Regions from separate parts of the Homo sapiens genome. Here regions 1 and 3 are each reported to be linked to region 2. The links are microRNA targets in miRTarBase. Many come from high-throughput screens and were not tested one by one. Region 2 holds a microRNA gene; each other region holds the end of a gene's coding sequence.
The links. Region 2 holds the annotated microRNA hsa-miR-8072 (GGCGGCGGGGAGGUAGGCAG, at 1,077-1,096, shown strand). A microRNA usually pairs through its seed, bases 2 to 8, with sites in the 3' UTR of a target mRNA and lowers its output. Matches are read on the target gene's strand: a 7mer-m8 pairs with bases 2 to 8, a 7mer-A1 pairs with bases 2 to 7 and ends in A, and an 8mer does both.

Region 1 (4,067 bases), not on the chromosome of region 2:
CCTCAGTCTTGCAGCCCAGAGCCCTCATTGCAGTATGCGGCCACCCAGCTGTACCCTCCGCCCCCGTGGTCCCCCAGCTCCCCGCCTCACTCCACGGGCTCGGTGAGGCCGGTCAGGGCACAGGGCGAGGGCCTCTTGCCCTGAGCACCCTGGATGGTGACTGCGGATAGGGGCAGCCAGACCAGCTCCCACAGGAGTTCAACTGGGTCTGAGACTTCAAGGGGTGGTGGTGGGAGCCCCCCTTGGGAGAGGACCCCTGGGAAGGGTGTTTTTCCTTTGAGGGGGATTCTGTGCCACAGCAGGGCTCAGCTTCCTGCCTTCCATAGCTGTCATGGCCTCACCTGGAGCGGAGGGGACCTGGGGACCTGAAGGTGGATGGGGACACAGCTCCTGGCTTCTCCTGGTGCTGCCCTCACTGTCCCCCCGCCTAAAGGGGGTACTGAGCCTCCTGTGGCCCGCAGCAGTGAGGGCACAGCTGTGGGTTGCAGGGGAGACAGCCAGCACGGCGTGGCCATTCTATGACCCCCCAGCCTGGCAGACTGGGGAGCTGGGGGCAGAGGGCGGTGCCAAGTGCCACATCTTGCCATAGTGGATGCTCTTCCAGTTTCTTTTTTCTATTAAACACCCCACTTCCTTTGGTTTGCTTTGCTTTGCATCTTCAGGGGTGAACCTGGCGGGGATGGGAGGTGGCCAAGTGCAGGAAGTGGAGGGGGGCAGGGCTGAGGATGCGGATTTGGAGTGGATGGAGCCTGCCCAAGGGATGTGGAATGAGAGGGATGCCAGGGATGGAGTTCCGGCCCAGCCCAGCCCAGCCCAGCCCAGCCCAGCCCAGCCCAGCCCAGCCCAGGGGCCTCTGCAAGCCTGGGTTGGGGGAGGCGGTGTTGGGCTGATACCTTGGCTTTGACCCTTGCCATCCTCCCTCCCTCCCTCCCTCTCTCCCTCCCTCCCTCTCTCCCTCCCTCCCTCCATCTGGCTGCCCCCAGGCAGCCCCTAGCAGGGACACATATGGGACATTTCAGAGACCCAGGTCTGGCCCTGGCACCTACATTGAGATCTGAGATCCTCTGGGAACCCCCAGCCTGTCCCCCTGCAGCTGGGATCTGGGGTGGGAAAGGTGAGGTGTGGGGATGGGGTAGGAAGCAGCCAGGCAGAGGCAGGGGTGTTAATTACAGTACACCTTTATTAATACTGGAATCTTCACAGTGCATCTGTTACTTGTAGCAGTGACTATATTTAAATCGGGGAGGATGGTGTGGAGGGGGCGGGGAGGAGAGGAGAATTTTTCCAAAATCTGACGGAAAGAAAAGAAACAAATGGTTCAGATGGGACGGAGGGTGGGGGAGGGGGGGAGGGTGAGTAGGAACCAGGAGGGCTGCCTGGGGTGGGGGAATAAATTAAAAAAAGGAACGAGTTAACAACAGCACCAGGAAAGTTACTTCAGTCAAAAGACGCTTTTGAAAAGAATATTTCTCCGTACAAAATGAGAAATTAAACGAACGTAAAGTCCCCCAAACCAAAGTTTGTGATGTGGGATGGTTGGCTCGGATCCCGAGGTGGGTGGGCCTATGAGGTGGTTGCTAAGTCGACGCAAGGGCGGCGGGGGTGGTCTCAGGGATGGACAAGGGGATGGAGTAGAGTATGTACAGCCCCCGGGGCTCACAGGGGAGGGGGACGGCGGAGTCGGTGGGGGCTGTGCCACACGAGCCCCCCTCTCTGGGTAGCCCCTGCCTCCTTTCCCATCAGGACCTCTGACGCCCAGGTCTGCCCACCCACTGCCCCTCACTCTATTCCCACCACATCCTGAATCCTGCTCCACCGCCCTGCCTCGGAAGACCCCTGCAGCCCTGGGGAGAATGTGTGGCGGAAATTCTACCCAAGACTCCCCAAATAATTGGTCACCTGCTCTCCTGGCCCCTAAAACCGGGGCTCTGGTGTTGGCCTGAGCTCCACGGGCTGAGTGCTCGGCCAGGCAGTTGTTGAACCTAGTGACTTACTTACAGGGACCATTCTTCATCAGCTCCCTCTGATGGGACTCTGTCCACATCAGGGCCTGCTTGGTGCCCGGACCTACCCAGGAGCTGCCCAGCTCACCGCACAAGAACTCCCAGGAGCTCAAGCCTGGGAGGCTCAGACCCAGCTCCATTCTATCAATCAATCAATCAATCATCAAGACCAAGGTGCTCCTGACCCCCAGGTAGGACCCTGCCCTGGGGCCACGATGCCCTCTGAGCCCTGCTTTCCCTCCTGACCTGCGGGGCCACCAGGACTCCCTCCGCTCGCCCTAGGCTCACGTGCTTTTACCTGCTGAGACTTGGCGTGACTTGGTGCGTGGGGTGGGGGCAGCCTTGCCCCTCCCCTTGCCCCCGCTGCCACCACGAGCCTGGACTACAGTGGGGGCCGTGCTGGGATGGCATCTCCTCCGGCAACAGAGAGTCAAAGCCAATCTTCCCAGACTCGCTCCCCCACCTGGGCTTGCAGCCAGCTCAGACCACAGCAGACAGGCCGGGAGCCTCCCAACCTTATTTTGGCTACGCTCGAGACACTGGAGAGAACAGTAGCTTCCACCGGGCTCTGGGGGAGCCAAGTCCCTCCCTTCTCATCCTGCCATAGGACCACCGGGGGGTCCCTGTCCCCCAGGCACTCCCAGACACACACCCTGTATCGTCCCCTCTCCCCCACACTTAGTCCTCGTCCACAGTCAGCTCCATTTTATTATATTCATAAAATGACCCCACACCTCCTACTGCTCCAGTCACCCCCCGAAAGGTGGCTAAAACTGTGACCCCCAAAGTTAAAAGATTGATGTACCCAATGAGAAGTGGACATCTGAAAACGGTGCCTGTGTGGCTGGCCGGTGACCCCAGGGCCTCCGGCCTCCTAACCCTGCTGCCCTAGTTTCCAAAGAGCTGCTCTGGCCCCCTCCAGCCAGCCTCACGGGGTGGGGGAGGCGAGGGGTGGGAGCCACCACAGGGCCCCCAAGACCCCCCCCCCCAAGCAGCCCCTGGTTTCCTCCCTGAGACTTGGCGTGGGCCCTGGAACTCCCTTCCCACACGGGGGGCCTGGCCGCCCAACTCCAACCTGCCGCCCTGGCCCCCAGCCCCCAGCAGACATCCAGCCCAGCGTGCACCTGGCCCCTCCACAGCCGCCCCGCCTCCTGGAGGGAGAGGGGCCTGGGAGAGGCAGAGAGAAGGCAAGAGGGGAGGAGGGGGCTCAGGCAGGGGAGAGGGGGGCCAGCATTCCAGGAGGAGCTGAGGCAGGACCAGCCCTGGGAGAGGCCGGGATGGTGAAAGGGAGGCCAGCCTGGCCCCTCTGTCATGGGCAGCGGCCCTGGCTCTGGTGCTTATGGGTAGGGAAGAGGCAGGGCCCCAGAGGAGGAAGAGGAGGGACCGAAGAGCATAAAACAGACCCCGAACCAGGCCCAGGCCTGCAGGCTCCGTCCTGGCCAGGCTTGCTAAGAAGTCACTTCCTGTTTAAATGCTGGAATCCAAGTGAGGTGTCTTTCCATAAAGTGGCATGGCCTCTGCCCTGGCTCTGTCCTCTCTCCTGGCTGGGCCTTTGCTCTGAGTGCCTGCGGCTCACAGACCAGGCCACCTGCTCGCACTGGGGCCTGAGAGGATGGGGAGGGTGGCGCCATCATAAGATGCGGGGCGCCGACCTGTCGTTGGTGACGGTCCTGCGGAGCCGGACCCCACGCCGGATGGCCACCAGCATGTCTTCGGCCGGGGGGTCGCTGGTGGCGGCTGGGGGTGGGGTGGGCGTCTCCTCCGTGGGGGTGGCCGACAGAGCAGTGGGGAAGGGGAACTGGCCCTCACCCAGTGCGTGGGCACCCGCCACCAGCTCCCCCAGCTTCTCCACCAGGCTGTGCCGGTTGGCCGCCAGCTGCTGCTGCTCGTCCTCGGCCCCTGCCCCGGGGTACCCGGCTGCCTCTGGGGATGGGCTGCCCCAGGCTGTGTTGGGCAGGCTGAGCCTCTTTGGGGAGGCCTTGGCGAGGTCCGGTGCCAGGGGTGAGGCGGTCTCGTCGGTATAGAAGACGCACTCCTCACTGCCCGCCCGTGTGGGCCCCATGT
Region 2 (4,067 bases):
TTTGCTTTCAGCACTAGGCTTGTAGGATGCGCAGCCAGTAGGGGGCAAGAATCACCCAGGCGTGCTTATTACCCAAGCAACGGAGTCAAACAGCACTTTCAGAATGACTTTACAAAAGGGTTACCAACAAGGTAATATGTTTATTGTGTTAGGTCGCTTAATAATAACGAAAAGATGAAAACAAGGAAGTGAGAAGCGGTAGGGACAGCCCTACTCTTCAGTATTCATTAAGTGGGAGCCCCGGTGTGTCGGGCTTGCGTATGAGCGTGAAGACAGACGTGGGATGGCTGAGCTCACACGCCTTAGGCTCTGATTCTAGCCGTGGTCGCGCCGAGGGCTCCGGGTTACTTGCGGTTTCACTGCCAATAAAGTGCTTTGAGCGAGCCTAACAAGCAATGAATATGTAAACATTTTGTTTCTAGGACTAACTAGGTAATGAAGAGATCTTCCAAGTGACAGAAACGCTGCTAGGTAACTTCCTGGGCCGTAGCTCCCCACCCTAACAGGTTCTGAAAATAGCTCCAGGCCCTTCCTAACCGGAGTTTGAAAGCAGGCGCGGGGCGCATGCGCGCGGCCCTCCGGCCGACCTCCCGATAGCCCTGGCACGCGGACCTTCTTCCCGACAGGCCGCGGGGAAAAAAGGGCGGGGAAACGGAATTACCGCGAGCTCTCCGTGAGCGCCGGCGGAAACAGTAGTCACGTGACTCTCCTAGGTGGCCTTCGCCTTCCCCCTCCCCCTTCGCGGAAACCCGGCCCCCTCACCCCTCGCCCACCCCAGAGCCGCGGTAATGGACCGTTTGGGTTCCGGAATTCTCTTGGATCCAACAACTGGTACCGGGCCGAGGATAGCCGGCGGAGTCCGTTTTTGGCGGCGAAGACTGGGGGGTGGTCAAGATGGGGGGGAAATCATCTTCCTTCACCTAGGAGGGAGGCGGGGCGGAGAGGGGCGCAGAGAGGCGGGTGGGGGAGGAGGGAGGAAGTCACGTGAGGGCGCTGCGTGCGCGCGGCGCCTCATCCGTTGCCCCTCCCCCGCCCCTCCCGGCGGGGCGGGGGGGCTGGGGGAGGGGCGTCAAGATGGCGGCGGGGAGGTAGGCAGAGCAGGACGCCGCTGCTGCCGCCGCCACCGCCGCCTCCGCTCCAGTCGCCTCTGGTCCTTCAAACTCACACCTCCCGGGAGGAGCTGTGCTGGCGCCGGGTCCCGCGGGGAAAGTAAGTCCTTCCCTTGGCCCTTTTCTCCTTCCACACTCCCCCTCCCGGACAGCCTCCCACTCCCACCCTCGGGGGGCCGTGCGGGGCCAGGCTGGGGGGACAGCCACCTCGCCCCGGCTTGGGGCCTCCCTCGCCGCTTGCCGCTCCTCGCGGCCGCGCGCTCCGGGGCCCTCGGGGGCATGTTCCCGACGGCGGCTCCGTTGTACTCGCTTCCTCTGTTCGTCAGCGCCGGGCCCCGCTGTCGCCGCTCGTGGGGCTTTCGGGCTCCGGGAGCCCCGCTGTCCCGGGCCGGAGGCACCCCTCTTGGACCGCGGGGCAGGGTCTGTGCACGCCGGCTCCGCTGGGTTCGCCCCTTTGGCTTCCGCCTCACAACCCGGGGGCTGCGGGTCCGGGACCCGCGGGGAAAGTAAGGACCGGATCCTTCCCAAGTCCTCTTTCGTGCCCCAGCATTGCTCCCGGCTCTGGGCGAGGGAGGGAGGCAGGCGACGCGGTCGTCCTTCCTAAATCTGAACCCCACAGCGCGGTCTCGTACATGCCCCGCTCTTGGGGCGGTGGGGAAGCCGCGGGGGACACGTGCAGGCTCCCTTCACGCCTCTCCAGGCGACTCGCTTAGTTCTGCCTCGGCGGGCGAGCTCACCTCCCAGACCCTAAGAATTACCCATGGAGGGGAACGGCAGTTGGGGATTTGCTTACTTTGAGAGCGTTTGGCATAACGAGCATCCAGAGTTCCCCAAAGCAGTGGATACCGGTGGTTTCCCAGAAGTGGTTTGGGGTCGGTTTAACCGCTGAGGAGATTTGGATGTTCCTAAACCCTTCTGATTGTTTCTTTCCTGACCCTGGCATCCAGCTCCTCCCCTTCCCACCCCTGCTTTGTGCTTCTGTTTGGTTAATGTTTGCGGACCACTAACTTGATCCTCGCACAGAGAAGCTCTTTTTATGTGCGTGCTCGGTTTACTGTGGGAGGCTTTTGTTTTGGGGAGTCGCTGGTTGAGAAACGTGGGAAAAGAACGGGCCAGAAAATGAGAGACAAATAAAGCAACGTTTTTATCCATTGAATTGCGCAGCCAATTGTAAGTGCACCCGGAAGTTTGTACTGAACACGTGTTGAGGGAAGGTTATAAACTGGTCCCCTTTGACCTTTGAAAGTTGGCTATTATCATTTTATGTTGAGTTAAATGTTTCATATATTCTAGACAGCCAGAATTAGGGATGGAATATGGTTTCTAAAGAGTCATCCAGAAGGGTGCAGAGAACTGTCATCCGGAGTGCCCTAGCAGGAATTGACTTAACACTTTCAGATAATTCTGCGAGCTGACAGTACAGAGGGATTCTATTTTCCACCATATTTTCTAGCAATCAGAATTGATTTTCATAAGCGTAGGGAAAGCTATCATCGTTGCACAGAAGATAGCAGAATTTCCTACTGGTGACTTGAGTGGGACATTAATTTTGCAAGCAAGGGAACATTTTCTCTCATCTTTTAAAGAAGTTGTTTCCAAAATTTTTCCGATGGGAGACGACTTTACTTTTTTTCTCTGGCTTCTGCTTTTTATCTTCCATTCCAACTTATTCCATATAATTGCGTTTGGAATATTTATGCTATTTTTAAATTTTTGAGACAGGGTCCCACTCTGTTGCTCAAGCTGAAGTGCAGTGACGTGGTCATAGCTCACTGCAGCTTGAACTCCTGGGCTCAAGCGATCGTCCCACTTCAGCCTCCGGAGTAGCTGGGACTACAGATGTGCACCACTACAGCAGCTAATTTTTTTTTTTTTAATTTTTTTGTTGAGAGGCGGGGGTCTCACCATGTTGGGAGGCAGCTACTGGCCTCAAGCAATCTTCTGGCCTCCGCTTCCCGAAGTGGTGGGATTACAGGCATGAGCCATTGTGCCTGGCCCCTTCAGAATCTTTTTTTTTTTTTTTTTTTTTTTTGAGGCGGAGTCTTGCTGTGTTGCCCAGGCTGGAGTGTAGTGGTATGAACTCGGCTCACTGCAACCTCTGCCTTCAGGGTTCAAACAATTCTCCTGCCTCAGTCTCCCTAGTAGCTGGGATTGCAGGCATGTGCCACCACACCTGGCTAATTTTTTTTTATGTAGTTGGCAGAAAGGGGTTTCACCATGTCGGCCAGGCTGGTCTCACACTAGTGACCTCAAGTGATCCACTCACCTCTGTCTCCCGGAGTGCTGGAATTACAGCCGTGAGCCACCGCCCTTGGCCCCCCCGTCAGAATCCTTTTTTTTTTTTTTTTTTTTTTTTTTTTTTTTTGAGACGGAGTCTCGCTCAGTGGCCCAGGCTGGAGTGCAGTGGCACGATCTCTGCTCACTGCAAGCTCCGCCTCCCGGGTTCACGCCATTCTCCTGCCTCAGCCTCCCAAGTAGCTGGGATTACAGGTGCCCGCTGCCACGCCCGGCTAATTTTTTGTACTTTTAGTAGAGACGGGGTTTCACCATGTTAGCCAGGATAGTCTCGATCTCCTGACCTCGTGATCCGCTTGCCTCGGCCTCCCAAAGTGCTGGGATTGCAGGCGTGAGCCACCACGCCCAACAGAATCTTTTTTTTTTGAGGTGGAGTCTCGCTCTCTCGCCCAGGCTGGAGTGCGGTGTCATAACCTTGGCTCACTGCATTCCTCTGCCTCCTGGGTTAAAACGGTTATTCTGCCTCAGCCTCCCAAATAGCTGGGACTACAGGCGCGTGCCACCATGCCCGGCTAATTTTCGTATTTTTAGTAGACACGGGGTTTCACCATATTGGCCAGGCTGGTCTCAAACTCCTGACCTGGTGATCCGCCTGCCTCGGCCTCCCAAAGTGCTGGGATTACAGGCGTGAGCCACCGCGCCTGGCCTCAGAATCTTAAATAA
Region 3 (4,067 bases), not on the chromosome of region 2:
TGAATAAGACATCTTAGGCTGCTCTGCCTATGAAGTAGGCATTCTTTATTCCTTTACTTTCTTAATAAACTTGCTTTCACTTAAAAAATTTTCATTGCATTATTGATGACTTGGTCTTATTGTTATCATTCATGCAGACATTAATAATCAGTGGTGATAGGTCAATCATTAAATAAGCCTTCTGGGAATATATACATTCTAAGTTGTTCACACAATAGCAAAAGTCATTTTCATTGACTTTATAACTTAAAAATCATCTGGCCAATTTCAAAAACAAGTGAGTTAGAATACGTTAGCAGTGAAATATTCTGTCCCATTTAATAAACTAAGATGAATTATTTCCTAGGAAGTTGAGTTTAATTCCTTTGAAGCCTACACAGTGGATCAACCATGTGCAGTTTGATTGTGGATTTTATTTTTTATTGATTACGGAGTTTTCTTAAATGGCAGATTAAGTCAATTAATAGAAAAATGGAGATGCTATAAACTAAGAAATATTTAAATTAAGAAATGTTGGAACTCATGAGGAGTAAATGTGAAAATGAACAAAACTCAGAACAAGTGTGTCCCTGGTGCTAACGGAGAGACTAACAGTGGACTTCCATTGCTGCAGTTTCTCAAGGTTTCCTTGTTTAGTGTTTCTCCTTCAGCCAGCACAGTGAGAATACTCTGTCTTCAGCTGGCAGGGGATGTGGAAGAGGCTTGGAAGCTTCCAAAGACCAGGATTGAGGGCCACCTCCATCACTTCTGCTCCTTGGATGCCTGATTCTATTTCTCTTAGAAGATTCCAGACCCCAAAGGAGATCATGTGACATAAGCTAGAGGTTGAACTCACCATGGTTGAACAAAAACTCTCTGAACGCATAGTGCTGCTTCACAGCTCACTGCAACAAGTCAAAAATTCCACTTTTATGGCACGTCACACCGGGATCACATATAATCCTAGATTATCTTTATTTGTTCTATAATTTAATAGTATACCTATAAAATAATTACATTATACTTATAGCTTTTCTTCATTTATAAACAAAACAAAAAAATTAAATACAATTTGAGCCATTATAAGGTAAACTTTGTACATACGATAACCCCAGAAGGAGCTTCACACTGCAGCATATCATATTGCTTTCATTGCTACACCCACAATTGGGTTCGAAGAGAGTGTGCTCGTGTTTGCATTCTGTAAGTTCTTAGCTTAATCCCTCCCCTATCTGTGTGGGTTCCATGTTAATAAAATGATAGGGGTTGGCTCTGCAGCTGGTCAGAGACTCTCCTCCACTCACCTCCCAATCCACCCCTAGCCTCCATTACAATCACGTAAATTTCCTTCCTTCACAGCTTTTCTGCTGCATGTTCTGCCACTGAGTCTGACTTGAGGTTTTCCACCAAATGCAAAAATCACTCCTGACCTTGAACACCCTTCTCTCCATTTTCGCTCTATCCTCAGGTTCCAGCCCTCAAGGATTTCTTTTGATTTCTGCCTCCTGAGTTCAGGCTGTATATACCCATTTATGAAACCAAGACCCCCTCTGCCACAGCACATTCTTGCTCAGGTCTCATGGTGTTGCAGAAATGACAGAAATGCACCTTGCAGTGCAGTGGCCTGAGATAGATTCACCAACCCACCCCACCCCAATCCTTGCTCTTCAAGTGAATGTCTCTAGATCCACCATCACTACCTAGTATCAGGAAGCTAAGTCCCCACAGCGGCTTGCAGAGGGTCTCTCTCACATACTAGGGAAGTGGCCCCTCACAGGAGCACTTACCAGGGAATCATCAGTGAAAGGTTTTCAAAGTTTACTGATTCCCACCAATGGCAGCTCATTCACATTTGTCAGATTCCATAAGCATTACTCACAGGGAAGCCTTCCTGGGGCAACTGAGCAAAGGAGCCCAGAAGAAGTATATAATTTCGCTGGAAAATAAGTTACGTCTACTTCCGTATATCAAGAGACCACAGCATGGAAACGTCAACAATTCATTATAAACACAAAAGGTGACCTAATGTTTGTTCGTCCCTTTTGAAGTCTATTCTTTGAAAAGGAAGCATGTTTTGTGCAGAACAGTTCAACTAGATTACTATTCTATATCTTTTATTCCTTACTCCCTTCTATACCACAAAGCGACTCAACTCCTTATATTTTTCAATATCCCTCTCTTTTTCTCTTTCTTTTAACAGGAAATATTTTTTGCCTAGTGTCATGGCAGTGAAAGTAGTATACGGTTTCACCCCACATATGCATATTCCACATTATAGGGGCTTTCTAGTTTCCGGTCATCAATTTCCCAACGAATGCCCTTCCCTATACCTATCCATCCCAAGCCAATTTCTACATTGTGCTGCAATGCTTAGTAACGTCAGTGAAATAGTATTCAAAGTAAAAATCACGACTCCTCCCATCTCCCTGCCCAATCTAAAAATAGGTGCATGACAGTGAATTGCTGACCAGGCATTTTTTTTTCTGAGTAAGACACCTTCTGGGCCTGCTGTCATCCTTACTCCGAATGGTGCTGCAAGCCAGAGTCAAAACATGTGAAATAATACATGAATAGGTCTATAATACTTTTTAACAGCTCTTTACAATATACGGTCACTTATAAAACCAGCGTTAATATAGAGACCTTTGTGTGTGATAATATTCTAATTGCAGCAATAATAGCATGCACACCAGAGTTCATCTTTAGTCCACAAATAGGGGGCGGGGACAGTGAGGAAGAAGAGGCGGTGGGGACTTGAGGATGGGGGATTGTGTAGCCTGCTCTGCTCGAGGTTTCCCGGGAAGCCCACTTCGGGATCCAAGTGGCTCAAGTTGTCTTCTTGGTATCAGGTTTATTAGGAGACGCCCCGTCCACCGACATATTTATGGAGGTTGCACATATCCTCATCACAGCAGCGACCGAGGGCAGCCTGCCAGTCACAAGAATGAGCGCTCCCAGCCAGAGGTCCAGGGACCAGCAGGAGAGGTCTGAGGGGCCGCTCAGAAAAGTGACGCATCCTTCACTTCGCGCGGGAAAGGGGCGAGCTGGAGTGCAGGGCGGGGCCAGGGAAATCCTTGCTTTTCCACATGGTGGAAACATCAATGCCGGATTTACAGTGCATCACCTCGAAAGGTCCTCTCTGACTGCTGGGTGGCGGTGGTGGTTTTCCAGCATTTTCCTTCGGGCCTGATCCACCGCCTGGTTTAGGGGGCACAGGTGGGACCCGGGGTCGGTCAGGAACACATCAGCAAAAGCTCCACTTGCGATCCACGTCTGTGACAAGGACACCGTCAGCCCTAAGAGAAGTGCTTGCTGCTGAGGGGGAACACCAGGCAGCGTGACAGTGGGCTCGGAGGGCAGGGACAGAGGCGGCGGCGGCGCCACCCAGCGGCCGGGCGCGCGCGGGGCTGAGCTGCGTCCGGCCCGGCGCTCACTGCTTGTCCGAGTCGCTCAGGTTCACGGACATGCACCGGCACTGCTTCACCTTCTGGATTTTCTTGAGTCGGAAGGGTGGGTCCAGGCCGGGGCACTCGAGCTCCACGAGGACGGAGGTGACGCGCTGGGGCTTGCAGAAGGCGCAGGACTGGAAGGACTCCTCCTCCTTCTTCACGTGCCGCGGGATGTAGAAGGAGTTGCACTGGCCGTAGCAGAAGCGGTTGAGGATGGTGCGGCTCCGGCAGCCCTCCTCGCTCACCGTCTGCCGCAGCGGCTGCGTCTTGCACCAGTCACTCTTGAGGTACTTGCGCTCGGTGACCACCAGGGCCTCCTGGCTGGAGGCCAGCACCTCCTTGATCTGGTGCTGCCATCTCTCCGAGTTGTTGCTGCTGCCGTCCTTGTAAGGCGAGGGGATGGCGCCCGCCGGCCGGTTCTTCCGGGCTTCCGCCACCTTCACCAGCACCGCCACCAGGAACAAGGACAGGGAAAGCTTCCAGAACATCCTGCAAACGAGAAAAGAGAGGGGCTGGCTGTGAAGGGCCGTAGAGTACGGGATCAATCTTACTTATTTTTTTTTTTATTTTAGACATGGTCTGGCTCTGTTGCCCAGGCTGGAGTGCAGGGGCACGTAGCTTGCTGCAGGCTCAAACTCT

Region 1: miRTarBase lists MTSS2 as a target of hsa-miR-8072. Seed matches in the 3' UTR shown: 7mer-m8 at 1,594-1,600.
Region 3: miRTarBase lists GREM2 as a target of hsa-miR-8072. Seed matches in the 3' UTR shown: 7mer-m8 at 3,351-3,357 and 7mer-m8 at 3,348-3,354.

Annotation. Positions count from the first base shown.
Region 1 is chr16:70,660,044-70,664,110 of GRCh38, forward strand. MTSS2 (MTSS I-BAR domain containing 2) reads right to left here. Exons shown (of 15, transcript NM_138383.3): 15 at 1,161-4,067. The coding sequence ends at 3,634. It overlaps IL34 (interleukin 34), which reads left to right. Exons shown (of 6, transcript NM_001393494.1): 6 at 1-639. The coding sequence ends at 144. Among named protein-coding and RNA genes, the nearest start is that of IL34, 16 kb to the left of the region's middle.
Region 2 is chr12:123,361,843-123,365,909 of GRCh38, reverse strand. MIR8072 (microRNA 8072) reads left to right here and starts at 1,067; the gene lies at 1,067-1,146. SBNO1 (strawberry notch homolog 1) reads left to right here and starts at 1,063. Exons shown (of 32, transcript NM_001167856.3): 1 at 1,063-1,209. It overlaps SBNO1-AS1 (SBNO1 antisense RNA 1), which reads right to left and starts at 962. Exons shown (of 2, transcript NR_157806.1): 1 at 795-962; 2 at 106-385. RefSeq lists enhancers at 303-512, 1,973-2,022, 1,679-2,397 and silencers at 683-782, 913-1,152, 1,263-1,342, 1,383-1,492.
Region 3 is chr1:240,489,560-240,493,626 of GRCh38, forward strand. It overlaps GREM2 (gremlin 2, DAN family BMP antagonist), which reads right to left. Exons shown (of 2, transcript NM_022469.4): 2 at 14-3,917. The coding sequence starts at 3,916. The coding sequence ends at 3,410. Among named protein-coding and RNA genes, the nearest start is that of GREM2, 120 kb to the right of the region's middle. RefSeq lists a silencer at 3,656-3,827.